Linked DNA regions of Homo sapiens. The protein of the gene in region 1 purifies or fractionates together with the protein of each later gene. This does not show direct contact. Each region holds a gene or a part of one and is shown on either strand. Other genes may lie near its edges. The genes, in order: MCAT, ZYG11B, METTL17 and MALSU1.

Region 1 (7,712 bases):
ATATTGGATCTGGAGCCATATCAGTTTTACTTCTTAAGATTTTTGCTGGCCAGGAACCATGGCTTACGTCTGTAATCCCAGTGCTTTGGGAGGCCAAGGCAGGAGGACCACTTGAGGCCAGGAGTTCCAGACCATCTTGGGCCACATAGTGAGACCTTCATCTCTGCCCCCAACAAAAAACAAAAATTACGTTGGGTGCAGTGATTCACACCTGTAATGCCAGCACTTTGGGAGGCAGAGGCAGATAGATGTTTGAGCCCAGGAGTTTTAGACCACCCTGGGCAACATGGTGAAAACCCCATCTCTACCGAAAATACAAAAATTAGCCAGGCATGTTGGTGTGCGCCTGTAGTCCCAGCTCGAGTACTTGGGAGGATGAGGTGGGAGGATTACCTGAACCCAGGAGGTCAAAGCTGCAGTGAGCTGTGATCGTGCCACTGCATTCCAGCCTGGGTGACAGAGTGACACCCTGTCACACACACACACATACACAAAATTAGCTGCACTTAGTGGCATGCATCTGTAATTCCAGCTACTCAGGAGGCTGAGGGAAGATCACTTGAGCCCCTGAGTCTGAGGCTGCAGTGAGCCACGATTGTGCCACTGCACTGCGGCATGGGTGACAGAGCAAGACCCTGTCCAAAACAAACAAAAAAGAATCTAGTATAGAAACACGAGAGGTTATTGGGACTGGAGAGGGAGAAATGGAGAGTGCCTACATAGTGGACATGGAGTGTTTGAAACTAGAGAGAGTTGGTGGTTGTACAACATTATGAATACCCCAAATACCACTGAATTATACACATTAAAGTGGTTAATTATATTTTATGTGAATTTCACTGCAGTGCTTTTTTTTTAAGCGTTATAACATTATTAAGGAAAGTTTCATAATTTCACATTTTATGAAACAATTTTATTACATGTATCATTTTATGTGTACATAATGTGCAGAATTAGGCTTGGTGTGGTGGCTCACGCCTGTAATCCCAGCCCAGCACTTTGGGAGGCCAAGGTGGGTGGATCACCTAAGGCAGGAGTTTGAGACCAGCCTGACCAACGTGGTAAAACCCCATCTCTACTAAAAATTCAAAAATTATCTGGGTGTGGTGGCGTGCACCTGTAATCTTAGCTACTTGGGAGGCTGAGGCACAAGAATCACTTGAACCAGGAGGCAGAGGTTGCAGTGAGCCGAGATTGTGCCACTGCACTCCAGCTTGGGTTAGAGAATGAGACTCTGTGTCAAAAAAAAAAAAAAAAGTGCAGAATTATAGCATAGTTACACTTTTGTGTTTTCTTTTTCTTTTTCTTTTTTGAGGCAGTATCTTGCTCTGTCACCCCAGCTGCAGTGCAGTGGTGCAGTCGTAGCTCACTGCAGCCTCAGCCTCTTGGCCTCAAGTGATCCTCCCGCTTCAGTCTCCAGACTAACTGGGACTACAGGCTCACACCATCATGCCCAGCTAATTTTAGAAGTTTTTGTAGAGATGGGGTCTCGCTATGTTGCCAGGGCTGGTCTGGAACTCCTGACTCAAGTGATCCTCCAGCTTCAGCCTCCTACAGTGCTGGGATTACTTACAGGCATTAGCCACTGTGCCTGGCCTACTTTTTTCCCTTGACATTTTACATAGTTTTGAATGTCTCTGTGGGAGGATGTCTGCGTGCTCTCCTCCCTTTTCTTGTATGTTTTCTTCTACTTCTTGTCACAGGCTCTTGTTCATTTGTTTTTTAAGAGACAGAGTTTTCCTCTGTCTTCCAGCCTTGAGTGCAGTGATGCAACCATAGCTCACTGCAGCCTCTAACTCCTGATCTCAAGCAGTCCTCCTGCCTTAGCCTCCTAAGTACCTGATGTCACAGGCTGTTTATGTATTTGTCCTCCTGTTCTTGTGTAAGGGAGCTAAAAGTCCAGTACATAGAAGTGCTAAGTGAATGAAGATATGTCAGGATTTGCTCCTTAGACCTCTCTGTTGACCTGTGAAACACTGTGCAGGTCCCTTAATCTCTTCTCAGTCTGGTCATCTCTTCTCTCTGCCCAGGAAGCAGGACCAGGGTGTCAGGGGTCTGGTAGTTTCAGGCCATTCTTATGTGTGGCTTTGTAGGGATTTTTGAGACAGGGTCTCGCTCTGTCACCCAGGCTGGAATACAGTGGCATGAACACAGCTCACTGTAGCCTCAACTTCCTGGGCTCCAGCAATCCTCCCACCTCAGCCTCCCAAGTAGCTGGGACCACAGGCGCACACTGCCACGCCCGGCTAATTTTTGTATTTTTGGTAGTGACAGGGTTTTACCATGTTGTCTAGTCTGGTCTCGAACTCCTGAGCTCAAGTGATCTGCCTGCCTTGGCCTCCCAAAGTGCCGGAACTACAGGTGCGAGCCACAGCGACCAGCCCTCAGGCCACTCTTATTATCATTGGCACTGCCTGCCCTCTCTCCATGCTCTTGAGCCACACTGAATCAGGAGTCATAGGTTTTCGTTCATCTGCATTGGCTGTGTCAGGTTCTCCAGCTCTAAGTGGGGACAGTAACACTTGACTTATGACAATTATGTCACTGAAATTCATGTAGTACAGTAGCCCATGTCTCTGATGGTTCTTTTTTGTTGTTCTTGTTTTGAGACAGGGTCTTGCTCTGTCACCAGGCTGGTGTGCAGTGGAGCAATCATAGCTTACTACAGCTGCAGCCTCAACCTGCTGGTCACAAGTGATCCTTCCGTGTCAGCCTCCCAAGCATCTGGGACTACAGGCAGGCACCACCATGCCTGGCTAATTTGTATTTTATTTTTTGCAGGGACAGGGTCTCCCTATGTTGCTCAGGCTGGTGTCGAGCTCCTTGGGCTCAAGCCGTCCTGCCTCAGCCTCCCAAAGTGCTGGGATTACAGGCATAAGCCACCATGCCCGGCCTGATCTCTCTTAATAAACTAACTAATAATAATTCCCAGCTTTCACAACAGCCCAGGCAGATTAGATATTATTATCCTCATTTTACTAACTAAAAATTTGAACCTCAAGGAGGTTGTGACTTGGCTAAGGCAATGTGGCTTCCACCCTGTTCCTCTTTACCTTTTACCAGGGTTTCTCAATAGTGGCACTATTTAAAAAAAAAAAAAAACAGTGGCGCTATTGGGCCAGGTCATTTGTTTTGTTGGGGGCAAGGGGGGCTGACCTGTGCAGTGCAGCATGTTGAGCAGCATCCCTGGACTCTACCCACTAGACGTCAGTGGCACTCTCCCCTAGTCAGAACAACCGGAAAACGTCTCCGGACACTGCCCCCGGCCTGTTGAGCACCACTGTCCTACTCCAAACCAGCTTTATAGCAGGAAGCTCCTTGGGTTAGTTTGTATAGTGCCAAGCACAGCAGCATACTTTTGGTGGTGAGCGCTTGTGCAGTCGATGGAGGTGTGTGGAACTGTGGCCCTGCTGGCTGGTGGCAGACACCAGTGCCCCTGTCTCTAGTGCAGAGTGGAGCTTGGGCTTTGTTTCTCAGGCCTGGCCTTTTCTCCTTCATTCTGTGCCCTCATTTTTCCAAATGCGCTTCTCTCTGGCCAGGTTTGTATGCAGTGAAAATCCGAGCTGAGGCCATGCAGGAAGCTTCAGAAGCTGTCCCCAGTGGGATGCTGTCTGTCCTCGGCCAGCCTCAGTCCAAGTTCAACTTCGCCTGTTTGGAAGCCCGGGAACACTGCAAGTCTTTAGGCATAGAGAACCCCGTATGTGAAGTGTCCAACTACCTCTTTCCAGATTGCAGGGTGATTTCAGGACACCAAGAGGTGGGTGTTGATGGGAACTGCCTTCATAGGCCAGTCCAGTACGGAGGGTTGGAACTGCTCCACACCCGTGAGGCCTAGCAGTCTGGCGGGTGCTGGGTCCAGCCCGGTCTTTAGGAAGTATTTTGGGGCCAGGGCAGTGAGGTAGACCGAGTGCTGCAAAGCAGGCAGGAGCAAGAATGCTGCCCTGCTCCACCACGTGTAGAATGGGGTCTGGAACCAACCAGCCAGCCCATGTCTAAAGTAAAGGGGCAGGGCCAGCTGATCTCCAGGGCCCTTCCCGTAGTACATTCTGGGCTTCTGAGGAGCCTGTGATCTGGTTGCTTCCTTAGAGAAAAGAGATTTGTTTTCTGCTAGATTGCTCTGCCTGCCCTGCTTTTTTTAGGTGTCTGTTTTTGCCCTGGAGTTCATTTCCTTTCCACCGTATTTCCTTCCATTTGCTACTTCCCCAAACATTTATCAAGGGCTGGGGACGCACAGACTGATTAGCCAGGGTTCCTGCCGTCAAAGGAAGAGCCCCGTGAATGGATGACTCCAGGCCGAGGGGTGCAGTGAGGGTCTGGCTGGCTACTCATGGGCCTAAGAGCAACCCAGGAGGCAGCAGCTGGAGGACGGGCATGTGTTTGCCAGCAGGGGGCACCCTGAGCAGAGCGGCAGGAGCCCCCTACAGAAAGAGCAGTGGGTGCTGAGTGCCTGGCTCAGGGAATGCTGAGTGAGCGCAGATTGCAGCCCGTGTGAGGGGCTGCTGCCCGGGCCAGGCATTTCTGTCTTACTTCATGTCCCTCACAGCCCATCCTGTGCTATATGGAAGGAAGGGATTCTTTTTTTGTTTGTTTGTTTGAGACAGGGTCTCACTGTGTTGCCTAGGCTGGAGTATGGTGGCACCATCACGGCTCACTGCAGCCTGGACCTCCTGGGCTCAAGTGTTCCTCCTACCTTAGCCTCCTGAGTGGCTTGGATTACAGACACGGGCAACCACACCTGGCTAACTTTTGTATTTTTTTGTAGAGACGGGGTTTCACCGTGTTGCCCAAGCTGGTCTTGAACTACTGGGCTCAAGGGATCCCCCCACCTCAGCCTCCCAAGTAGCTGGGACTACAGACACAGGCCACCACACCCAGCTAAAGGAAGGGATTCTTAATCACATTTTCCACACAAGGATGCTGAGGCAGAGAGAGGCAAGTGCTTGGGGATAGTAGAGGCAGAATGGGAACCTGAGTCTGTCTCACTCTGGAGTCTGTTTCCGCCACTTGACCGTGCTTGGCTCCCCTTCCCCTTTGAGGGCTCACCGTGTGCCAGGCGTCCTCAACTGCCTCCTCTGAAGTAGTGAGAGCTGGCAGGAGCCTCTTATGACTGTTCTGAGATGGTGGGCAGGTCAGGTATGGTGGCCCCAGGTCAGTCTTGGAGCTAGTTAGGCGTTCCCTTTACCAGCCTTGGAAGGAAGCCCAGAAGTGGCTCAGGAAGGACTTCCCAGTCAGGGCAGGAGTCTCCCCAGTAGGCTCCCAGACAGGTGCACCCAGTCTAGGTGACAACTCCTAGGTTCATCCTTTTGATTTTTTTTTTTTTTTTTTTTGTTTTTTGAGACAATGTCTTACTCTGTCATCCAGGCTGGAGTGCAGTGGCACGATCTTGGCTCACTGCAACCTCCACCTCCTGGGTTCAAGTGATTCTCCTGCCTTAGCCTCCCAAGTAGCTGGGACTACAGGTGCATGCCACCACACCCAGCTAATTTTTTGTATTTTTATTAGAGACGGGGTTTTACCATGTTGGTCAGGCTGGTCTTGAACCCCTGACCTCAGGTGATCTGCCCACCTCGGCCTCCCAAAGTGCTGGGATTATAGGTGTGAGCCACTGTGCCCAGCTTCCCTTTGGTATTCTTGGTAGTGCCACAGCAAAGAGCTCAGGTGAGGGCAGGGGTACCCCCTCAGGGGGGAAGCCCCTTTCCAACAACTGATGTGAAAAGGCTCCTGGGCCCTGCTCGCCCAATGCCTGGGCCAAGGACTGGCCATTGGAGAGGAGACTGCTGGCCCCTGTGATGGTGACCTTGAGCCCTGTGGCCCTAGCCTGGGACTTGAGAGGGCTCAGCTGTTGAGCCAGAGTCCAGAGATCTTACACGGAAAGCACTTTGAGACCACAGATGCTCCAGGAAGTGCTACTGAGTAGCCATCCCCATACCTGCCAGTCACTCAGACAATCTAGGTGTGGAGGGAGGGGCTTGGGCTCCAGAGTCTGGAAGGCCCAGACCAAAGAGGCTCCTGGTTCCTGCGGTCCAGCCTCAGTGGGATGGAGCCACATGGAGGGTGATGGTGGAGGGGAAGCACGGGTGAGTCAGTACAGGCCAGGTTTTGTTGCAGTGACAAGTAGCCCACACCTCAGTGGTCACAGCACACAAGCACCGGTCCCACTCCTGGTCTGTGCTCGCCAGGCTGGGTTCTGCTTTTCAGCCCAGGACTCAGGCAACAGGAACAGTCTCTAGGGAACACTGACAGACTAAAGCAGGTGGATGACTTGAGGCCAGGAGTTCAAGACCAGCCTGACCAACATGGTGAAACCCCATCTCTACTAAAACTTAGCCAGGCGTGGTGGTACATGCTTATAGTCCCAGCTACTCGGGAGGCTGAGGCAGGAGCATTGCTTGAACCTGCGAGGTGGAGGTTGCAGTGAGCCAAGATCGCACCTTTGCACTCCAGCCTGGGTGACAGAACAAGACTTCATCTCAAAAAATAATAAAGACCTTTGCAAGTTCTGTTGCTTGCTCACTGTTGCAAGGGTTTTGGAGCTATTGGCTCGCCCGAGGCCCCTTCTGAGCTCAAATGCCTTCAGGGGAGGTTTTTGGCATCAAGAGGAGAGCTCTTTCCTTCTCCAGAGAAACCTCAGATGAAAGTGACAATATCCTAGACCCTGCATTGTGAAATGGGGCTTGAATTTTAGTTCTGAATTTTTATTTTGAAGATTATGGAATAAAAAGCAAACAGACTGGTCAAAAATTATGAAAGGAGTGATAGAATTCTCATTGAGATCCGGGTGCGGCGGCTCATGCCTGTAATCCCAGCACTTTGGGAGGCCGAAGAGGGTGGATCACGAGGTCTGGAGATCAGCTAATACAAAAAATTAGCCGGGCGTGGTGGCGGGCGCCTGTAGTCCCAGCTACTTGGGAGGCTGAGGCAGGAGAATGGTGTGAACCTGGGAGGCGGAGCTTGCAGTGAGCCAAGATTGTGCCACTGCACTCCAGCCTGGGCCACAGAGCGAGACACCGTCTCAAAAAAAAAAAAAAAAGAATTCTCATTGAGAACTAACACTTCTTAGATAGTGCGTTTTCCTCTACCAGACACTGTTGCATGCCTTGTAGGGTTTGCTCTTCCTGGCAGCGTTGTGAAGTAGATGGAACTGTGCTTATTTGAAGGCTGGGACAGAAGAGATTCCAGGATGTTAAGTGAATTGCCTGGGGATGGTGCTGGGACAGACAGGTCACATGTCCACATCTAGCAGCTGTGGGTCTCTTTGTGGTCACCCTCCCAGTTTGGCCCTGTGAATGGTCAGATCTGTAAAGGCGGATTTCTGGGACATTGCTCGGCTGAAACCTCCTTCCTTCCCCAGGCTCTACGGTTTCTCCAGAAGAATTCCTCTAAGTTTCATTTCAGACGCACCAGGATGTTGCCGGTTAGTGGCGCATTCCACACCCGCCTCATGGAGCCAGCCGTGGAGCCCCTGACGCAAGCTTTAAAGGCAGTCGACATTAAGAAGCCTCTGGTTTCTGTCTACTCCAACGTCCACGCGCATAGATACAGGCATCCCGGGCACATCCACAAGCTGCTGGCCCAGCAGCTGGTCTCCCCAGTGAAGTGGGAGCAGACGATGCATGCCATATACGAAAGGAAAAAGGGCAGGGGGTTCCCCCAAACTTTCGAAGTAGGCCCTGGCAGGCAGCTGGGAGCCATCCTGAAGAGCTGTAACATGC
Region 2 (7,712 bases), on another chromosome or scaffold:
CTCAGCCCCCTGAGTAGCTGGGATCACAGGCATGCACCACCATGCCTGGCTAATTTTTTTTTTTTTTTTGTATTTTTAGTAGAGATAGGGTTTCGCCATGTTGACCAGGCTGGTCTCAAACTCCTGACCTCAGGTGATCCACCTGCCTTGGCCTCCCAAAGTGCTGGGATTATAGGTGTAATTTACCACACCCAGCCAAGATTTTTTTAAAATAAGAAAAGAGCATGAGTTCTATAAATCGGTCCTAGGTCTGAGTCCTGGTTCCAACATTAATTTGCTCTTTGACCCTGGATAAGTTACTCTGCAAGTCTAAGATTCCTCATCTGTAAAGTGTTGATAATTATAACTCCCTCACAGGGATTACTGTGAATATTTAAATAAGACAATGAATGCAACATGAATCTTGCTTTCATGGAGCGTATAGTCCAGTGGGAGACACAATTAGGAAGTAAACATATAGAATTACAGCTTGTGCCAGGTTCTCTGAGGGAAAAAGAACACTGTTCTCTTAAGAAGAATAATAAAGGAAGGGAGATGTTTTAACTTGGATGATCAGAGAAAGCTTCTAAAGTGGTGATACTAGACTGAGACCTGAATGACAAGGAGGGAAGTCAGTAACATAAAGGCGGGCTCCTCGGCACTGCCCAGGAGTTCTGGAGTATTTCCCCAGTAAACTAGTGTTCCTAACAGTAGTTTCAGATGTTCTTTGCTCTTCTCAGACTTTCTACCATTTATCTTAGGAAGAAAATTGAAGCCATCAGATAAAATTCCCTTAACTCCATGTAAACCACTGCTTCCAATTTTTCTGAGTGATCTTTTTTTTTTTTTTAATAGAGATGGAGTCGCACTATGTTGGCCAGGTTGGTCTTGAACCCCTGGCCTCAAGGAGTCCTCCTGCCTTGGCCTCCCAAAGTGCTAGGATTATAGGCGTGAGCCACCACATCCAGCCTATCTTTTTTTTTAATTAAAAAAAATTATTTTTTGAGACAAGGTCTGATTCTGTTTCCCAGGCTGGAGTGTAGTGGCATGATCATAGCTCACTGCAGCCTTGAACTCCTGGACTCAAGCAGTCCTCCTGCCTCAGCCTCCTAAGTAGCTGAGATCACAGGTGCATGCCACCAACATCTGACTAATTTTTAAAAATTTGTAATGGAGATGATGTCTTTCTATGTTGTGCAGGCTGGTCTTGAACCCCTGGGCTCAAAGCAGTCCTCCCACCTCAGCCTCCCAATTACAGGAATGAGCCACCACACTCAGTTTTTTGTTTTTTGTTTTTTGTTTTTTCCCAGTCAGGGTCTTACTCTGTCACCCAAGCTAGAGTGCAATCATAGCTTACTATAATCTCAAACTCCTGGGCTCAAGCGACCCTTCGACCTCAGCCTCCCGACTAGCTAGCTAGGACTACAGGTATGTACCACCATGCCCGACTAATTAAAATTTTTTGTTGTTGGGATGGAGTCTTGCAATGTTGCCCAGGCTGGTCTCAAACTCCTGGCCTCGGGTAATCCTCTTGTCTCATCCTCCCAAAGTACTGGGATTATAAGCATGAGCCACTGTGCCTGCTCATTATTTCTTTAAGTACTTTTTCAGCCACACTGTCTTTCTCCTGTCCTTGAGATATTCCAGTGACACAAATATAGCTTTAGGTTTTTGGTTTTGGTTTTTTTCCCATTCTGTTCTTGTTATTTAAATTAGGTAATTTATGTTGTTTTATCTTCTAGTTCACCAGTCTTTTTTCTCTGTTCTCTATTTTACTGTTGACCTCAAGCATTATTATATTTTTCACTTCTAAAATTTTTATTTGATTCTTCTTTATATCTTCTCTTGCCTTGCTGAGTCTGTTTTCATTTTTTTCTTTTTTTCCTTATTAAATTTTTTTTAAATTTTTTTTTTTTTTTTGAGATGGAGAATCTTGCTGTGTCGCCCAGGCTGGAGTGCAGTGGTGCGATCTTGGCTCACTGCAACCCCTGTCTCCCAGGTTCAAGTGATTCTTCTGTCTCAACCTCCTGGGTAGCTGGGACTACAGGCGTGTGCCACCATGCCCAGCTAATTTTTGTATTTTTAGTAGAGATGGGGTTTCGTCATGTTGGTCAGGCTGGTCGCGAACTCCTGACCTCATGATCTGCCTGCCTTGGCCTCCCAAAGTGCCACCGCGCCTGGTCTGTTACTCATTTTTTTTCAAGCATATTTGTTTACTTTTGAAAATTTAATTGCATTTTTTTATGGCTCCTTTAAAATCGTTGTCAAATAATTTTAACATTTCTGTTACCTTACTGTTGGCATATATTGATTATCTCTTTTTGAGTTTGAAGTCTTACTGGTTCTTAGTATGATTCAGAGTAATTTTTTATTGAAACCAGGACATTTTAGGTGATATGAGACTTTTCTGTTTTAGTTTGAGTCACTGACGTCACTCCAGCAGTGGAAGGTAGGAGCACTGCCTTGTTACTGCCAGATTGGGGTTAATGTTCTTTGTAAAAATTTTTATAGGCCAGGCACAGTGGCTCACGCCTGTAATCCCAGCACTTTGGGAGGCCGAGGCGGGCGGATCACGAGGTCAGGAGATCAAGACCATCCTGGCTAACACGGTGAAACCCCGTCTCTACTAAAAATACAAAAAATTAGCTGGGCATGGCAGCGTGTGCCTGTAGTCCCAGCTACTCCAGAGGCTGAGGCGGGAGAATGGTGTGAACCCGGGAGGTAGAGCTTGCAGTGAGCCCAGATCGCGCCACTGCACTCCAGCCTGGGTGAAAAGCGAGACTCCGTCTCAAAAAAAAAAAAATTATTTTATTTTATTTATTTTATGTTATTTTATTTTATGTTATTTTTATTTTTTATGTTATTTTATGTTATATTATTTTGTTATGTTTTATGTTGTTATTTTATTTTATTTTGTTATTTTATGTTGTTTTGTTATTTTATTTTATGTTATGTTATTTTGTTACGTTATGTTATTTTATTTTATTTTGTTATTTTATGTTATTTTATTTTGTTATTTTATTTTATGTTGTTATTTTATGTTATTTTATTTTGTTATTTTATTTTATGTTATGTTGTTATTTTATTTTATGTTATGTTATATTTGAGGTGGAGTTTCGCTCTTGTTGCCCAAGCCGGAGTGCAATGGTGCGATCTCAACTCACTGCAACCTCCGTCGCCTGGGATCAAGCGATTCCCCTGCTTCAGCCTCCCAAGTAGCTGAGATTACAGGCAGGCACCATCAGGCCTGGCTAATTTTTTGTGTTTTAGTAGAGACGGGGTTTCACCATGTTGGCCAAGATGGTCTCGATCTCCTGACCTTGTGATCCATCCGCCTCGGCCTCCCAAAGTGCTGGGATTACAGGTGTGAGCCACTATGCCCAGCCAGATTAGGGTTAATGTTCTTTCTGGTTCCCCACTTGGCTTCTCTTGACACCCAAGGTGCAGGGCTATGCAGAGGTTGGAATTCTGACTCCCCACTAGGATTCTATTGATACTTCCCTAAATGAGAGGGGTATGGGTATGTCATTTCTGCTTCCCAGTTGGCTTCTACTGACACCATGTTGGGAGGAGGTGGCCTCATTACTGTTGGGCAGTTGTGAAAGTCCTGACTTTCCACTAGACTTCCTATGACAGCACCCCAGCAGGGAAGCAGGTAGAGAACTTCATCGCTGCTTGATGAGTGTTGAAGTTCAGGCTCCCCAGAAGGTATCTACTAACATCGTGGTGGGGGATAGTTCTTACTACCCAGCAGGAATGAAAGTCCTTGCTCTCTACTCAGACTTCTCTAACACCTCCCCTGTGGGCAGATTGGGGCAAGTAATTACAGCCTGGCAGGGGTAGAAATCTAGGCCCCTATTGGCATTTGCTGGCATGGGTGGAGCTGCAGTTTTTTCTGTCGTGTTTGGCTGAAGTAGAGCAGTTACTGTCTACTAGCTGTTTCCTGTCTTACTAGTTGCTGCTTTCCTGGTACGTTGGCTAGAGAGAGCAGATTTTGGGGGAGGTTTTTGTCTGTGCCCATTGGTGTTTCCAGGCTGCTGGCTCCTTCAACTTTAGATCTGGGATATATGACCAGAAAAAAACCAGGAACTTTTCTGCGTTGTTCCATGGGTCCCAAGGTCCCCCCTAGCTGATCTGCTTTCATCTCTTCACCTTTCAGAGTGATCTAGCTCCAGCTCACCTTCAGCCTCATTTCTTCTGTCCCATTTGCATGCTTATATCCCCAGAAATGCACTGCATCTATGGCTCTAGCTATTTCTTATGTTCAAGCAATATAGAAAGAACTACTTGCCATTTCCTAACCCCGTGATATGCTTTCACATCTTTAAGACTTTGCTTATGTTGTATATTCTTGCTTTAATATACCTAACCTTCTTCCTCTTTTTTTTTTTTTTTTGAAATGGAGTCTTGCTCTGACGCCCAGGCTGGAGTGCAGTGGCGCCATCTCGGCTCACTGCAGCCTCCGCCTCCCAAGTTCGAGTGATTCTCTGCCTCAACCTCCCAAGTAGCTGGTATTACAGGCGCGCACCACCACACCCATTTAATTTTTGCATTTTTAGTAGAAACGCGGTTTTGCCACGTTGGCCAGGCTGGTCTCGAATTCCTGGCCTCAGGTGATCCATCCGCCTCGGCCTCCCAAAATGCTGGCATTATAGGCATGAGCCACTGCACCTGGCCTACTAACCTCCTTTCTCTATCTTTGAATTCTTCCAGCATTTTCAAAGGCCTTACTCAAAGATCACCTCTCCCATCAAATCTTTTCCAGATCTTCATTCATGATGGTTTACTTCCTTTTCTTTGTTTTTGTGATACTTTATACTTGACATTGATATACCATATATCTCATTTTGTTATGGCTGTTTGTGTCTTTTTTACTCCATGGGATTATGAATCCTTTGACTATAGGGGCATATCTTATTTTTCTTTGTATCTACAACATTTAGAGTACTTGACATATAGTAATTGTTTAATAAACTGTTTGCTGAATGGACCCCATCATGAAATTTACTCTCCTGAAATAGAGTGCAGGTAATTTGAAAGGCTGTCTCTAGAACTACATTGTTTAATCGAAATGTAATTTTAAATTTACCGGTGGCCACATAAAAAAATAAAAAGAAAAACAAGTGCAACGAGTTTTAATAATTTTTATTTAACCCAATATATTAAAAAATGATCATTTCAACCTGTAGTATATATAAAAAATTGAGATACTTTACATTATTTTGTTGTATTAAGTCTTCACAATCTGGTGTATATTTTGTACTTTATAGCTGACCTCACTTTGTACCACCTGCTTTCCAAGTGCTCTCCAGCTGTGTGGAGCTAGTGACTATGTATTGGGCAGCACAGCTCTAAAATGTAATGGAGTTCTTAATATGTAATTAGTCATTTTTGTCCACTTTGGCAGGTTTTGCACAGGCCTTTCTTGATTTTAACTGTGTAACTGTAATTAAGTCTGCAAAACTCATTAGAGAATAGTGCTCCCTTTTAAAAACACCTCATTTCTAATTTAAGGGTGACTGGCTGGCAGCCTAGCTGCATTTTGAGTATGGGCCAGCTAAGATGCCGCCTTAGAGTTCCTCTCATGACTTCAGGCTATTTATTTACCTGTCCTCAACTGCTCATTCACCCCATACTATTCTTAGACTACCTGTTTTTGGCATGATTGTTACTTCTTTCACAGTCAATGTTGTTTAGTTGATATGTGATATGTTGATGTGCCTCCAGAGTATCATATGCTTGTGACACTGTTGATTGGTAGACAGGTAGATCTCGAAGGCACTTCAAGAGGTTACTGTGTCGACTTCATTTACATTCATCTGCAGGAGGGGGAGTGTGGGGGGAAGCTGTAACTACTATATATATATATATATATATTTTTTTTTTTTTTTCAGAGACAGGTTCTCACTCTGTCACCCAGGCTGGTGTGCAATGGTGCAATCATAATTCACTATAACCACAAACTCCTGGGCTCAAATGATCCTTCCATCTCAGCCTCCCTAGTAGCTAGGACTATAGGCATGACCACTGTGCCCAACTCGTTTTCAGTTATTTTGCAGAGATGGGGTCTTGCTATGTTTCCCAGGCCTAGATCGCTTTAATAAGGTTTGAGATCTGGCTAGTGGTTTATTAATGAATTACAAGGCATTAAGTGCATGCTAAATATATTATGTGTATATGTGTTTGTATAATAATATGTTAAGGTGAATTTAAAGGATAGGCTAGAAATGTATTGGTAACAAATCAAATACCTTAACACAAGGTTTATACCTCACTTGTGGTACATAAACTCTGCAAGTCCATAGAGGATTCTGCTTCATGGTCACCCTAGGGTCCAAACTGATGGAGGGTTTCTCCTCATATAACTATACTCTCTAGAACGTGAAGTCTCCTCGTTTGTCATAGCAGGAAAAGACAGCATGGAAAATCATGCACTGGCTCTCAGGTGCTTCAACATATAGTGCATTGGCCAGAACTAGGCACATGGCTCCAGCTAACTCCAGGGATGGGCTGGGAAATGTAGTTGTCTGGTAAGGTAAGAACTAGATGTTAGTGGATATCAATAATGTCTGCCACAGTCCTGATTCTGCCACTTGCTAGCCCTGTGATCTTGGAAAGCCACTCTCTGAGCCCCAGTTTACTCATCTACAAGTTGTAAACAATAATAATCTCACCTAAATGAATTGTGATTATCAGACGAGATACTGTTACATGGGAGCGCTTTGGAAATGTAAAGTGTGATGGAAATTTTGGCTATTCTTTAACTGTTTTTTGAATTTAAAACGCTGCTTGTTTTTCCACAGGTCTATTGAATGATGGAACTGTGGGTATTTTTAGGGGCAACCAGATGCGCTTAAAGCGAGCCTGCATTCGCAAAGCAAAGATCTCTGCTGTTGCTTTCCGGAAAGCTTTCTGCCACCACAAGTTAGTGGAACTTGATGCCACAGGTGTGAATGCTGATATCACGATTACAGACATTATCAGTGGGCTTGGCAGTAACAAATGGATCCAGCAGAATCTCCAGTGCCTGGTGCTGAATTCATTAACTCTCTCCCTCGAGGATCCTTACGAGCGCTGCTTCAGCCGGCTTTCTGGCCTTCGAGCTTTAAGCATCACGAATGTTCTCTTTTACAATGAAGACCTGGCTGAAGTTGCCTCATTGCCAAGATTAGAGAGCTTGGATATTTCTAACACCTCAATCACAGACATCACTGCTCTACTGGCCTGCAAAGACCGACTCAAGTCTCTAACCATGCACCACTTGAAATGTTTAAAAATGACAACTACCCAGATACTGGATGTAGTTCGGGAACTCAAACATCTGAATCATCTTGATATCTCAGATGATAAACAGTTTACATCAGACATAGCTCTTCGCTTACTAGAACAAAAAGACATCCTACCTAACCTTGTTTCTCTGGATGTTTCTGGGAGAAAGCACGTGACAGATAAAGCCGTTGAAGCCTTTATACAACAACGTCCAAGCATGCAATTTGTAGGTTTGCTGGCTACTGATGCTGGTTACTCTGAATTCCTCACAGGCGAAGGACATTTGAAGGTTAGACTTTAAAAATGTATTATTTTGTCAGGCTGACCAATATCTTAGTTGCATAAGACTCTATTAAAGATGAATGTCTGTAATATATGGAACATGTTCATGAAACAGGGCTGCATATAGTTGAAAGGCTTAGAGTCCTAATTAAAATCTCAGCTTCATGACCCAGAACAAGCTA
Region 3 (7,575 bases), on another chromosome or scaffold:
AGCTGGGTATAGTGGCGCACGCCTGTAAACCCAGCTATTCAGGAGGCTGAGGCAGGAGAATCGCTTGAACCCAGAAGGCAGAGGTTGCAGTGAGCCGAGATCATGCCATTGCACTACAGCCTGGGCAACAAGAGTGAAACTCTGTCTTAAAAAAAAAAGAAGAAGAAGAGGAAGAGGAAGAAGAAAGAGGAGGAGGAGGAGGAGGGAGAGGAAGCTGAACTGGCTTGTAGAAGATTTCATAGATGTCTGATGCCCACAGTACTATCAGAGCTTGAACAAAAACAGCTCCACCAAATTCAAAGTAGAAATTTGGAACAAGATTTGAACAAGAAAAAAAATACCACTTCCCATAACACAGTCTCCTCCTCTCCTAGCTTTAGCCCTTAACACAGAGTGTGGCACATCTAACATGGTCAGTAAAGAATTCCACCAACTCAAGAACGAAAAATAAACTCCCTATCATGGATAAATGTCTTTCCCCATTATATATCTTTCTTTCCTCTTTATCTTCTCTTTCTTCATCCCTTTCTTCTCACATTTTTTCTTCATTTTCTGTATAATAGCAAGTCTCCTAGGCCAGGTGGCTGTGCTGGCCATTCCCAGTAGTTCTCAAAAACACAAACAGATCCTTCTGGAAAGTTCTGTCTTGAATTGGTCCCTGTTGCAGGACAGTACATTAGAAATGGTATTTCTAGAAGGCTTGGAGAAGTAGATGATAAGCCAGAGTTTCCTTCTTGGGATTCCTCTCCCGAGTCTGAACTGGAAACCATTGACCTAGTTGTTAAACAATGGAGGCCCCCAACCCAGAACATTTTAATGGGATAACTTTTAGATTTTCTTGAGAAACATGAACTGAGAATAGAAAGACTTCTACATTCTCTCACTGCCCTGGCCATTCCGGTCCCTATTTCAGGGTCTCAGTCCCTCAGGAGAGATATACGAGACCCCCAATGGGTGTCCAATCCTTGGATTTTCCTCTAAGACTTTATCCATGTGTTAAGAGTCCACAATGCACCTCCAAAGAAGCTCCTGTGTGACCACCATTCATCTTCTGAGGATATCAGCGATCCTTTCATGCCATCCCATGCCAAGACTAACACTGCTCTGTGGTGATCCCCCATCCTATATCTGTAGGAAGCCATGCTGGGTCTGCCCGAGCCAGAGTTTTCAAAATCTATAATCCCTCCAGAACCTCCTTGCTTTCCTCAACATAGATTTTTGCCAAAGGAGATCAGATCCAATTGGAAGATCCCTCCCCCGCAGCAGAATACTTTGTAATTGGATTAGTCTCAACAGCAACAGTAGTTCTGGCCTTGAATATGAGTTAATCAGCCAAGTCACAACACAAGAAAGCTGACTGCACCAGAAAACCCTGTACAATCCGTGAATTTCTTCATGGTTGAGACTCAGATGAATCATCATGTTGATCTGACTCATGCTTCTCCCTGCCTTAGGCCAAGAGACTGAGGCTTCACCTGGGATCTGCCTCTTTCCCACTCAAGAGTCAAATGAGCCCCCAAGGAGTAAGAAAAAAATGTGATTGATTCTGATTTGCACCCCAGTCTTTTTTTAATTTATCATAAAGAATCAAATATTTACATTAGAAGATATCTTGTGCTGTGAAAAAAAAGGAATAAAAGAAGGGAGGAAGAAAAGAAGTGGGAGGGTGGGAGAGAAAGGAAACAATAGAATAAGGCAGGCGCGGTGGCTTACGCCTGTAATCCCAACACTTTGGGAGGCCAAGGCCAGAGGATCGCTTGAGCTCAGGAGGTCAAGACCAGCCTGGGCAACGTGGAAAGACCCCATCTCTCGAAAAAAATAAAAAATTAGCCAGGCACAGTAGCATACACCTGTCGTCCCAGCTATTCAGGAGGCTGACGTAGGAGAATCGCTTGAACCTAGGATGTGTGGCTGCAGTGAGCCATGTTCTCACCACTGCACTCCAACCTGGGTGACAGAATGTCACCTGTCTTAAAAAGAAAACAATAGGCTAGAAAAAAAAGAAAAGAAAGCAGTAAGTGACATAAGACCAAGAGGAAAAAGGGAAACTTGAGCATCATCTGTCCTCCCAGTGGCCTACGGAGGGAAAAGAGTAGACACTTAGCTTCACAGTCCACCGCAAATCAGGCAGGGTCACTTCTGCAAACACTGGTAACCTACTAAAACCCAAGCACAGAATAAGACAGACACTGAGATTCAGAGATAAAGTCAAGATGGCTCCTACTGTTGCAGGGGAACTAGAATGACTCAGAATCCCAGACAGGTCATGTTTGAAGAGGCCATTCATTCACTCCCATTGAGGTGAAAGTTGCATCCCTTTCTCCCTTCTCTCCTTCTCTTATCCTGGAGCGCAAACATTGTGTGGAGTGCAAACATTGTGTGGAGCCCCTACATAGGCGCGGTGGCTTATGCGTTGGAGTTGAACTACTATGAAGGTACTTGAGATCTGGTGATTCCCTTGGATAAATTTCCTACAAGGAATCATTTCACAAAGTTTTATGGACAGAAAATGCCCATAATTTGGATGGTGGCTTTTGGAGCCGTGACATGATCTCAGCTATATGAATAGAATTATAAGGACAAGATGCTGAGGGATTTACTCAAGAGCTCTGACTAGCTGACAGTAGAATCTTGGCAGATCTTCCAACACACACATCTAGTATGGCCCAATCTTCAGAATTATCTGTGCATTTGGGCAAGAATAGGCCCCATCGCCAGCACCCTGGCATTTGGGCAAGACTCGCACAAAAAATGAGGGATGGCTTCAGGAGTAAGAACCTTTGAGACGGCCTGGGTTGTGGACTTAATAGTCTGGAGAGATATCAACAGGTATCAATTTAATTTAATGGTTCCATTCCTCAGATATCTCTAGGGCAGAGTCCTCAGCCCAGGGCACACACAGAATCACGACTCTGAACGTGAGCATTCTCACTGGAGGGGTAGAGGTCACTGTGGTGACCCTTTTGAGCACCCAGGAAAGATTCCCAGGTAAAAGGAGGACTGAGGAAAAGCTGGAAAAGAGGCAAGTGTCAGCCTAGGATGTGTCAGTGGGCCATGCATTCATCTACAGGAAGGGCGGTTCCGCCTGGAAGAGGCAGAGCGGCCCTTCTCCCCCTGTCCACCCATGTCTCCTCACCCCACCTCACCCCGAGATGAGGAGCCCTGAGAGAGCTGGCAGGCTGCAGTCGGTGAGGTCTGCAGATTTGGGGAAGAAGTCGAATAAGGTAGAGAACCACAGAAGGAAAGTCCAATTAGGGCGCTGGGGCCTGAGATCATCAGGCCCTAGCCTGATGACTCAGGAGTCTAGCCCTCCAGATGAACTGGCTGGTTCCACACACAGGTCAAGTGGATGTGCTGGGAGAACATCCTAAACCTGTAACGGAAATTAGGGGGCCAGGAGCCCACAGAAATCACACACTGGGTGAGCTCAAGTGTTCGGAGACTGAGGTAGCAGTTGTCCACTGTCAGGTCCCGAAAGTAGATATCGCCTTGCATATGCCATTTATCCTTCTGATGCTCTAGTGAATGAAGGTGTTGATGAGCTTGCAGACTCTGGAGACCATTCCCCTATGCTATATTATCACGTCACAATAGTGGCTGGACCCACCTGAGATTCTGCACCTCAGGTAATCAGACGGCTACTGTCTAAGTCCTGGGCCTGGGGGAAACACTCTGACGTAGCAGCAGACACAGGAGGGTCCCCGTCAGAACCATGTTTTCTGTGAAGTGGGGATCAGTCCTTTTCCCTGAAGTACCTAGCACATAGGTGTTCTCAGTAAGTGTTATGTTAGCTTACTAAGAAGACTGGTCTCATTTGAAGAGAAATTAACAAATGTAAAAAAATAAATAAACCTATTAACTAGGTTTAATATTTATCAAACTATTAACTATTCAATAATCATTTAACTATTAATTTCTGTTTTCTTCAGTCGCTTAAATCTGATTTTTCTCTTCTTTCCGTTACTGCAGTCTCCCTTTTTCACACAGGGAAACAACCCAAGACTCAGAGTTCTCCGCGGAGGAATGCAAAGAACACAGGAAGTCAGTACTCCCAGAAACAGTCTTTGCTGGCGCGCTCACACCCAACCCCATCCCGCCCCCGTCCCGTCCCGCCCCGCCCCACCCCACCCTCTTGATTTCTGGGGCCGGTGACCAGGCCCAACGCAGCCTTCAAGTCGGCCCAAACACGGTTTCTGCCTCAAGGATTATTTATATAACCATTGCTTATTGGCTGCTGGCAAACACTCGCTCTTCTCGTTGGCTGAAACTGTCGGGAGAAGTTCTGCGAAGGCTGCTCCTTGCGGCGTTGGGACTGAGGGTCACAGGCACCTGTATTTCCGTTTCCGGTTCGCCTCCGGAGCCATGGCGGCGGCACTGAAGTGTCTACTGACATTAGGAAGATGGTGCCCCGGCCTTGGAGTGGCTCCCCAGGCCCGGGTGAGTGCCTACATTCCCTGCTGTCGGAGAGACTCTGGATCTGCAGAGACATCTCCGCGCAGAGGAGGAGCGCTCCTGGCAGCCCCCGCCCTAGCGATTGCCAGCAACTTTCCTTTCTGCCAGGAAATCAACCTACCTTTCTCTGCCTGCAGGCGCTCGCCGCCTTAGTACCCGGAGTGACCCAGGTAGATAACAAGTCCGGTTTCCTGCAGAAGAGGCCTCATCGCCAGCACCCTGGCATCCTAAAGCTGCCGCACGTGCGGCTGCCACAGGCACTGGCTAACGGTGCCCAGTTATTGCTACTTGGTGAGTAACGGCGGGAAAGCGAGAAGAAACGGGACTGGACCTACATGCAAGTGATTCCGCTTTTCGTCTTTGGCCCATAGGGAGCGCTGGGCCCACTATGGAGAATCAGGTGCAAACACTGACCAGTTATCTCTGGAGCAGACATTTGCCTGTAGAGCCAGAGGAGTTGCAAAGACGGGCTAGGCATCTTGAGAAAAAATTCCTGGAAAACCCAGGTAGGACTTAAGAATAATTAAAAAGTGGGCGAGATTGAAATATCGGTTAGAAATGAAGAGTAAGAAATAATTCTACAATCTCTCAGATACTGAAGTCTCTTATTTGACTTTCTAACCAGAGCAGCAGTTGTTACAATGATGCCTTACTAAAAGAAGGTAGATTATTTTAGAGATTGCTTAGGTAAAGGTCAGAATGTCCCAGTATACTGTTTTTTGTTTGTTTGTTTGTTTTGTTGTTTTGTTTTTGCTTTGAGACAGAGTCTTGCTCTGTCACCCAGGCTGAAGTGTAATGCTCGATCTCGGCTCACTGCAACCTCCGCCTCCCGGGTTTAAGTGATTTTCCTGCCTCAGCCTCTTCAGTAGCTGGGATTACAGGCGTGCACCACCACACCCGGCTACTTGTATTTTTAGTAGAGACGGGGTTTCATCATGGTGGCCAGGCTAGTCTCGAACTTCTGACCTCAGGTGATCCGCCCACCTTGGCCTCCCAAAGTGCTAGGATTACAGGCATGAACCACCGCGCCTGGCTACCAATATACTGTTAAAATCTAGATATTTATTTTTTTCTGCAAGTCCACTGGATTAGGACCTTCTAAGTTTTTATTCAGGTAAAATAAAGTCCCTGGATGGTCCCTGCCCAGTACTGAAACCCTCTTCTGGGATAAGAGGGTAAATATAATTCATCAAGTTAGTTTCATGATTGTGAGCTCCTTGACACTACCATTTATTCATCTTGCATTCCCTGCACACCTCACAGTACCTGGCTCACAGTAGTTCAGTAGATACTTGCTAAATAGTACTGAACTGAACAGTCATGAGACGTAGATTTTCAGATTTCTTTCCTCTCCATAGGAATAGTGGAGATCATCAAAACCTTAAATTTTGGAGAAGTGAAGAAATCCAAAAAATAATGTCCTTGGCCTACCCTTTAAAAAAAATTTTTTTTTTTTGAGACAGAGTCTTGCTCTGTTGCCCAGGCTATAGTGCAGTGGTGCGATCTCAGCTCACCACAACCTCTGCCTCCCGGTTTCAAGTGATTCTCCTGCCTCAGCTTCCCAAGTAGCTGGGAATACAGGTGCACGCCACCACGCCTGGCTAATTTTTGTATTTTTCGTAGAGAAAGGTTTTCACCATGTTGGTCAGGCTGTTCTCAAACTCCTGACCTCGTGATCCGCCTGCCTCAGCCTCCCAAAGTGCTGAGCTTACAGGCGTGAGCCACCGCACCCAGCTTACCCTTTAAATTTGTATCACACTTTCCTTTAATATAAAACAAACCTGTGGGACAGGATTGGTTAAGCTGAATAAACCATTCTTATAAATAAAATGCTATCTGATACAATCTGTTAGTGGTAGTTGTTACCGTTAATTCTTGCCTGAAACTTTTCTCTAGGTTTGTCGTCTCCCTTGAGCTTTAAGGCTTTTCTTAGGTGGAGTCGGGGAGGACTGGGTGGGCAGTATATTCAGATATTGGATCTGAGCCCTGTTCTCCCTAGGTCCTGACTTCCAGTCCTTGTTCTCACCACAGACTTATCTCAGACAGAGGAGAAACTTCGTGGAGCAGTGCTACACGCACTACGTAAAACTACCTACCATTGGCAAGAACTGAGGTAAGGGGGCCCAGAAGAGGTGCACAAGAAAGCAAAGGTAGACTTTAGAAAGAGAGTTGGGGGAGTACAATTACACAATCAATTTAGTATTTTCTTTTATATCACCTGACCTTAAAAGGATCAATTTAGTATTTGAAAAAGCTAAAGTACAAAGTTTTGAACACTGAAGTTTGAAAATTTAGTGTTTGTAAGTCTCCCCAGGACCCTTTTGTATTGGGGAGTGAAAGGCCTGAGCTGGAAGAGCCCTTTCCAAGATGTCATTTTCTAAATCTAGAAGGTAATTATGGGATTAAGGTTATTTACTAGTATGTACAACTCTGTGATTTTAATGGCAGCTACACTGAGGGACTGAGCCTGGTGTATATGGCAGCAAGACTGGATGGTGGCTTTGCAGCAGTCTCCAGAGCATTCCATGAGGTGAAAGTCCCTTAACTTCCAACCTGAACTTTTTGACCATCAGTTCCCTATTCATAAAGTAGTTTTCTAGGATGGGGATTCTTGGGACATTGCATATGCATTTTTTTTTTAAAGAGGATCTCCGCTGGACATAGTGGGCTCCTGCCTGCAGTCCCAACTGTTTGGGAGGCTGAGGCAGGAGGATTGCTTGAGCCAGTTTGAGGCTGCAGTGAGCTGTGATCTCCACTGTACTCCAGCCTGGTGACAGAGTGAGACCTCATCTCTTAAAAAAAACACAAAATAAAGACGTTCTCTTTATCCTGTGAAAGCTTTCTGTGACCCAAGAAAGGTTTAGAATCACTATTTTAGGAGATTCTTATCCCATAAGGTATTTGTATTGAATCTCAAAAGGCATTCACATCTCACATCCTCTGTGATAGCCTCCTAATTCACATTTATCAAGGTCCTAAATAAGTATCTAATTACCCTACTGTGGGATGTTGTATATTTCTTCAGATCCGGGCTCGAAATCCAGCATTTCAGCCACAAACTTTGATGGACTTTGGCTCAGGTACTGGTTCTGTCACCTGGTGAGTAACTTTCTTCAGCCCTAT
Region 4 (7,712 bases), on another chromosome or scaffold:
AATTCATAGATTTCTCTGGTTTCTGGAAGCATCAAATGAATCACCATGCTGCCTGTCAGGGACAGATAAGAGATACAATGAAGGAATAGTTCATTTGCTTTTATTCTTACCTTACAACACACACTGGCTAACTCTAGGAATAAAGCAGTGGTTCTCAAGTGTGGTTCCCAGATTAGCATCACTGTGGACTCCATCCCAGCAAAAATACCACAGAAGTGATGCTATGCCTTTCTCAGTGTACCTACAGGAGGCATATGTCAATATATAACATTGCTGGTGATAGTAACTTTATCAAAGAGACTAATGGTGTCAGGATTCTCTTCGGTGACAATTCTCCATGGGTAACACACTTCTGCACATCTTTTGTGCAAAAACACTGACTGCCTTTTGTTTTGACTATCCAAGAATGTTTGTATCGTGAATATTCTTAACAGAAAGATACTGCCTCCCTCCAGGGCAAAGGGCAGCTTTGCTTACAGCAGCATTTCTCAATTAGGTAATAATGGTAATGTTTAGAGTCATTTTTGATTGTCACAATTGGAGAAGGGAGGATACTGCTAAACATCGTACCGTGCACAAGAGACACCCCTCCCCCACATGCAAAATTACCTGGTCCAAAACGTTAATAGCGACAAAAGTGAGAAACCATCAGAGCAAAAGTAGGCCTGCTTCCTGCCAGTTATAAAAAACCTAGACACCCTCATCTGAGTTCCAGTTTTACAACTGTGTGTGCTGGTGTCATCTGGCCCATGTTGCCCTATGGAATCCAGAGCTCAGGAAACCAGTGCAAAATGGATGCTGGCTACTGCTGTGAGTAATAAACTGTTCTTTGTCTCTAACCCTCTAATAGTCTTGTCTTTTACCAGTGTCCATGAAAACTGGCGGGACAATGTATTAGCTTACAAGCAGAATAAAATCTCAGACTCCTCAGTTCTTGACATACAGTTATGTTTCCCCTTTGTAAATATTATCTTGTTGGGAGGTGCTTTGAAACTATGTACACATTAATACCCAAAGTTGTTAGATCTTTTCAAAATTCTAGTCTTCTGCTCTTGTCCTTTTTTGTGCCTGGAATAACCTCATCCTCATCTCATTTATGCACCACAGCCCCCAAACCTTCCTCTACCACTACTAAGGAATCTCTCCCGCCTCTACTATGTTATCCTGTTGTCCACCACCTTCCTGATCTGTGTGGCTAGTAGATACACACCATGTAGTATATATCTTCCTCCAGGAGGGCATCATCTAGGGTACTTTGGTTTGGTTAGGTGAAAATTCTACATGTGAATAAGACCACCTGGATTATAACTAAAAAAACTTTTGTTACCTTAAACACACTTCAAAAATCTTACCTGGAAATACATTCATCAATTTGATCTCAATCCTTTTGCAACTGAAAACAATTCAAGATTAGCGTAGTACCAACAGTTACCTGTAAAATACGCCAGAATAACTTACCAAAATCCACGCACAGCCAGTCATCAGTGTCCTTCCCTTCTATCTTAACATGAGGGTCACGTTTACATTTCAGGTGTTTGTACTGCAAAAAGCCAGGTGGTTTATTAAAGGGAGAGGGGATGGGGGAAGCCTGTTCTTGCTGAAGGTCTTTTTTTTTTGTTTGTTTGTTTGTTTTTTTTAATCTTTCTTACTCATTTCTCATTGCTATACTTTGCCCTGTGATGAATAACTTAGGGAAACTATTTCTCCCTCTAAATCTTATTCACTTTCACCTCTCTCCTGAATTCTCCTGCCCCAGCCCTTCTGAGAGGGTCACCCCATTCATTCACCAAGGTGCCTCTGAGGCTGAAAAAGCTAAGCTCAGTCAGCATTTGGTACCCACCTACATCCATCACTTGTGTTCATCCCAGCTTTCCTTCACCTTTAGGGGCTGCAGATACTACCTTCTGTTTATAAAGCCAGGTTGTTTCAGTGCCACTGATTTCATCTCATCTGCCTTTATGACATGTTAATGGGACCCCGTCATCCTATAAATGTGCTCAGTTCTTTTGTTAAAACAGATATACTAATATCAAACAAGATGGCAATTAAGTAAAAACTGTTACAAGAGACAAAGGACATCTCATATACATCACCCCAAAATCAAAGGAAATGATAATTAGGGCAGGAAAAAGACAAAATCAATGAAACTAGGATTTGGTTCTTAGAATGACTAAGAAAAAAGACAACTAAAATCTGAAATGAAAGAAGTGACACTACTGATTTTAGAGAAATGGGATTGTAAGAGTATTATGAGCAACTGTACACCAAACAACTGGGTAACCTAGACGAAATAGCAAAATTTCTAGAAACACAATCTACTGACTGAATCATGCAGAAATATAAAGTTTCAATAGACCATAACTAGTATGGGGACTGGATCAGTAATCAAAAATCTCCCAACAAAAGTCCTAGACCAGATGGCTTCCCTGATGAGTTTTACCAAATATTTAAACAAGAATGCAATACTCAAATTCTCCCCAAAAAATTGAAGAACAGGGAACACTTCCTAACTCATTCCATAAGACCAATAACCCTGATGAACATTTGATGCAAAAATCCTCAACAAAAATACTAGCAAACCAAACTCAGCACCATATTAAAAGGATTATAGACCATGACCAAGTGGGATTTATCCCTGGAATGCAAGGTGGTTCAACATATAAAAACGGATCAATGCAATAACACCACATTAACAGAATGAAGAAAAAATCTATATGATAATCTGAACTGACGCAGAAAAAGCATTTAACAAAATTCAATACCCTTTCACAATAAAGCACTCAACAAAGTGGGCATAAAAGGAAATTACCTCAACATAATAAGGGCCATGTGAGAAAAGCACACAGCTAATATATTCAATGGTGAGACTGAAAGCTTTCCTGTAAGATCAGGAACAAGACTATGCCTGCTTTTGCTACTTCTATTCAACACAGTATTGGAAGTTCTAGTCAGAGCAATTCGTCAATAAAAAAAAAAAAGGTACCCAAATTGGAAAGGAGGAAGTAAAATTATCTCTGAAGACAATACAACTTCATATGTAGAAAACCCCAAAGATTCCACAAAAAAAACCCAGTTAGGGCTACTAAACAAATTCAGCACACAAAAATCCATCGTATTTCTATACACTAACAATGAGCAACCTGGAAACAAAGTTTTTAGAATTCCATTTACAATAGCAGAATAATACTTTTTTTTTTTTAATTGAGACGTTCTTGTTTTGAGTTTCGCTCTTGTTGCCCAGGCTGGACTATAATGGCGCAATCGCGGCTCACAGCAACCTCCACCTCCCAAGTTCAAGCGATTCTCCTGCCTCAGCCTCCCAAGTAGCCGGGATTACAGGCATGCGCCACCACGCCCGGCTAATTTTGTATTTTCAGTAGAGACGGGGTTTCTCCATGTTGGTGCGGCTGGTCTTGAACTCCCGATCTCAGGTGATCTGCCTGCCTCGGCCTCCCAAAGTGCTAGGATTACAGACATCAGCCACCGTGAGCAGCCTAGCAGAATAATCTTAACCACAGGAGCAAAAGACTTGTACAATGAAGACTACAAAACACTGCTGAAAGAACTTACAGATGCCAGTAAATGGAAAGATACTTCATATTCATGGATGGGAAGACAATATTGTAAAGATGCCAATACTACCCAATGCAGTCTACAGATTCAGTGCAATCTATATCAAGATCACAATATTTTTTGAAGAAACAGAAAAATCCAACCTAAACTTTATGTGGGGCCAGACACGGTGGCTCACACCTGTAATCCCAGCCCTTTGGGAGGCCAAGGCGGGTGCATCACCTGAGGTTAGGAGTTTAAGACCAGCCTAGCCAAAATGGTGAAACCTCATCTCTACTAAAAATACAAAAAATTAGCTGGGCATGGTGGCGGGCACCTGTAACCTCAGCTACTTGGGAGGCTGAGGCAGGAGAATTGCTTGAATCTGTGAGCCGAGATTGTGCCACTGTACTACAGCCTGGGCAACAAAAGCGAAACTCCATCTCAAAAAAAAAAAAAAAATTATATGGACTCTCAAGGAACCCCAAATAGCCAAAACAATCTTGTAAAAGAACAAAGTTGGAGTCTCATATTTCTTGATTTCAAAACTTAGAACAAAGCTATGGTAAACAAAACAGTCTGAAACTGGCAAAAAGACAGACGCACAGACTGATGAAACAGAATACAGAGCCCAGAAATAAACCCTTGTGCCTATGGTCAAATGATTTTCAACAATGGAGCCAAGACCATTCAATGCACAAAGGACAGTCCTTCCAACAAACGTTGCTGAGGAAATGTCCACATGGAAAACTAACCGCCTACAAAAACTAACTCAAAATGGGTTAAATATCTAAACAGGAGACTTAAAACTATAAAACTCTTAGAAGAAAATAGGGAAAACATGATACTGGTTTGGCAATTATTTATTAGATATAATACCAAAGACACAGGCAACAGAAGAAAAAATAAACTGAACTTCACCAAAATTAAATACTTTCGTGCATCAAAGGACACTCTAAAGAGTAAAAAGGCAACCCACAGAATGGCAGAAAACATCTGCAAATCACATATTTGATAAGGGATTAATATCCAGAATATATAGAGAGCTCCTACAACTCAACAACAAAACAACAAACAACCTGATTTTAAAATGGGCAAAGAGTCTGGGCAATATAGTGAGACCCTGTCTCTATAAAAAATAAATTAGCTGGGCACTGTGGAGTAACTCCTACCATTCTACTTTCTGTCTCTATGAATTTGACTACTCCTACTCCTCTAGTCCTAGCAACTTGGGAGGCTGAGGTGAGAGGATCACTCGAGCCCAGAAGTTCCAGGCTGCAGTGAGCTATGACCACACCACTGCACTGAAGCCTGGGCAACAAAGTGAGACACTGTCTCTTTAAAACAAACAAAAAAGCAAAGGACTTTTCTTCAAAGAATATATACAAATGGCCAATAAGCAAAAGAAAATATGCTCAACATCACTAATCCTTAGGGAAATACAAATAAAAACCACAATGAGATATCACGTCATGCCCATTAGGATGGCTATTACCAAAATGAGAAAATAAGTTGTTGATGAGGATGTGAAGACTGGAAACTCTGCACTGCTAGAGAAATGTAAAGTGGTGTAGCCACTATGAAAGAATACAGGAGCTCCTCAAAAAATTAAAAACATTCAGCTTTGTGCTAGGCTGGTGAACAGAAAAAAAATTAAAAACAGAATCACTATATGATCCAGCAATCCCATTTCTTTGCACATACCCCAAAGCATTAAAAGCAAGGACATAAACAATTTTTTTTTTTTTTGAGACTGAGTTTCGCTCTTGTTGCCCAGGCTGGAGAGCAGTGGCACAATCTCGGCTCACTGCAACCTCCACCTCCCAGGTTCAAGCGATTCTCGTGCCTCAGCCTCCCAAGTAGCTGGGATTACAGGAACCCTCCACCACACCCAGCTAATTATTGTATTTTTAATAGAGACAGGGTTTCACCATTTTGGCCAGGCTGGTCTTGAACTCCTAACCTCAGGTGAACTACCCGCCTTGGCCTCCCAAAGTGCTGGGATTACAAGTGTGAACCCAGCCTTTTTTTTTTTTTTTTTTCTTTTGAGACAGCGTCTTGCTCTGTCACCCAGGGTGGAGTGCAGTAGTACAATCTTGGCTCACTGCAGCCTCAAGCTCCTGGGCTCAAGCAATCCTCCACCTCAGCATTCCAAGTAGCTGGGACTACAGGCACACACCACCAAGCCCAGCCAATTTTTTATTTTATTTTTTGTCTTTTTTGTAGAGATGGAGTTTCACCATGTTGCCCAGGCTGGTTTCAAACTTCTGAGCTCAAGCAATCCGCCCACCTTGGCCTCTCAAAATGCTGGGATTACAGGCATGAGCCACTGCGCCCAGCCTCATGAACAGTATTTCTATACTCATATTTATACCAGCATTATTCACAATAGCCAAAAGGTGGAAGCAATCTAAGTGTCCATCAATGAATAAGGGGATAAACAAAATGTGGTATATACGTAAGATAGAGTATTATTCAGCCTTAAGAAAGAAGGAAATTCTGGCACATGCTACTACATGGATGAACCTTGAAGACATTATGCTAAGTCAGATAAGTCGGTCACAAATCTATGATTCTACTTTTATGAGATACTGAAAAGTAGTCAAATTCATAGAGACAGGCAGTAGAATGGTAGCTGCCTACGGAAGGAGAAATGGGGAGTTATTGTTTAATGAGTTCAGAGTTTCGTTTTTGCAAAATGAAAAAATTTCTGGAGACGGATGGTGGTAATGATTGTAAGTCAATGTGAAGGTACTTAAAGCTACTGAACAACACAGTTTAAAATTGTTAAATGGGCTGGGCACAGTGGCTCATGCCTGTAATCCCAGCACTTTGGGAGGCCGAGGTGGTCAGGAGTTTGAGACCAGCCTGACCAACATGGTGAAACCCCATCTCTACTAAAAATAGAAAAATCAGCCAAGCGTGGTGGTGGGTGCCTATAATCCCACCTACTCAGGAGGCTTAGGCCGGAGAATCACTTGAACTCGGGAGGCGGAGACTGCAGTGAGCTGAGATCGAGCCACTGCACTCCAGCCTGGGCGACAGAGCGAGACTCTTGTCTCCAAAAAAAAGATTAAACGGTAGGTTTTACGTTATATATATTTTACCACAAACAACAAAACTTTCTTGCCTTTGCATTTCTCTCATCTAAAATCTTTGTAAAGGCAATTTCTATTTCTTTATTCTTTCACAGAAACTTCTCTGTAAAACCTCCCATTCTTTTTACATCCGCAAGTCCAATGGTCACTAAGTCTTCTGACTCCATCCCACTATTACATCTGATAGAGACCCTGGTATGCTGTCTTTGTATATCTCTTCTTTATGCTTTCCTAGTTCTCTCCCTATCTCTCCAATTACCCTGTTTTTGGCATCTTCTTCTGCTCTGTCATGTACCAGGGTTTTGTGTATAGGCCCCACCTTTTTATTTTACAACCTTTCTCTATACAATTTTGGCTACTCTTTTGGTCTTAACTGCCTCCTCTATGACCAATTCTCAACAGACTAAGACTAAGAAAGGTATCATGGCCCCGTGGAATGGTACCAGAGTCAGCTAGAGGCTTCCAAGTACTTTCTTCCTCATTCTGATTCATATTCAGTGCAACTGGAAAACAATCCCCCTTTCTTTCCTCAACTAGACCTGTAAGGGCAAGGACTACATCTTTTTTGTTCTTACCTTCCCAATACCCCGTACAGTGCTTGGGAACACTGGACATGCTCAAATCTTTGAATGAAACTCCAGGCCAGCACTGTCCAATAGAACGTTTTACAATGATGAAAATGCTTTATGGCTGTCCCATATGGTAGCCATTAGCCACACGTGGCTATTGAGCATTTGAAATATAGCTAATATAACTGCAGAACTGAATTTATATCTTTTTTTTTTTTTTTGAGACAGAGTCTGGCTCTGTCACCAGGCTGGAGTGCAGTGGCACAATCTCAGCTCACTGCAACCTCCGCCTCCCAGGTTCAAGCCATTCTCCTGCCTCAGCCTCCCGAGTAGCTGGAATTACAGGCACACGCCACCATGCCCAGCTAATTTTTGTATTTTTAGTAAAGACGGCATTTCACCATGTTGGCCAGGATGGTCTTGATCTTTTGACCTTGTGATCCACCCACCTTGGCCTTCCAAAGTGCTGGGATTACAGGCTTGAGCCACCACG

Evidence for each region.
Region 2: the proteins of MCAT (region 1) and ZYG11B purify together in Homo sapiens (affinity purification with mass spectrometry; 2 studies listed by BioGRID and IntAct, with this or other methods). This does not show direct contact.
Region 3: the proteins of MCAT (region 1) and METTL17 purify together in Homo sapiens (affinity purification with mass spectrometry; 2 studies listed by BioGRID and IntAct, with this or other methods). This does not show direct contact.
Region 4: the proteins of MCAT (region 1) and MALSU1 purify together in Homo sapiens (affinity purification with mass spectrometry; 2 studies listed by BioGRID and IntAct, with this or other methods). This does not show direct contact.

What each region holds. Positions count from the first base shown.
Region 1 is NC_000022.11:43,133,126-43,140,837, reverse strand, and holds part of MCAT (malonyl-CoA-acyl carrier protein transacylase, mitochondrial isoform a precursor), read left to right. Parts: intron 1-3,539; coding exon 3,540-3,757; intron 3,758-7,351; coding exon 7,352-7,712. UniProt on the Homo sapiens protein: Catalyzes the transfer of a malonyl moiety from malonyl-CoA to the free thiol group of the phosphopantetheine arm of the mitochondrial ACP protein (NDUFAB1). This suggests the existence of the biosynthesis of fatty acids in mitochondria.
Region 2 is NC_000001.11:52,764,238-52,771,949, forward strand, and holds part of ZYG11B (protein zyg-11 homolog B), read left to right. Parts: intron 1-6,782; coding exon 6,783-7,537; intron 7,538-7,712. UniProt on the Homo sapiens protein: Serves as substrate adapter subunit in the E3 ubiquitin ligase complex ZYG11B-CUL2-Elongin BC. Acts to target substrates bearing N-terminal degrons for proteasomal degradation with the first four residues of substrates being the key recognition elements.
Region 3 is NC_000014.9:20,985,641-20,993,215, forward strand, and holds the start of METTL17 (ribosome assembly protein METTL17, mitochondrial isoform 2 precursor), read left to right. Parts: upstream 1-4,339; 5' UTR 4,340-4,362; coding exon 4,363-4,437; intron 4,438-4,589; coding exon 4,590-4,743; intron 4,744-4,823; coding exon 4,824-4,958; intron 4,959-6,483; coding exon 6,484-6,565; intron 6,566-6,900; coding exon 6,901-6,982; intron 6,983-7,477; coding exon 7,478-7,551; intron 7,552-7,575. UniProt on the Homo sapiens protein: Mitochondrial ribosome (mitoribosome) assembly factor. Binds at the interface of the head and body domains of the mitochondrial small ribosomal subunit (mt-SSU), occluding the mRNA channel and preventing compaction of the head domain towards the body.
Region 4 is NC_000007.14:23,301,696-23,309,407, reverse strand, and holds part of MALSU1 (mitochondrial assembly of ribosomal large subunit protein 1), read right to left. Parts: intron 1,541-7,712; coding exon 1,459-1,540; intron 53-1,458; coding exon 1-52. UniProt on the Homo sapiens protein: Required for normal mitochondrial ribosome function and mitochondrial translation. May play a role in ribosome biogenesis by preventing premature association of the 28S and 39S ribosomal subunits.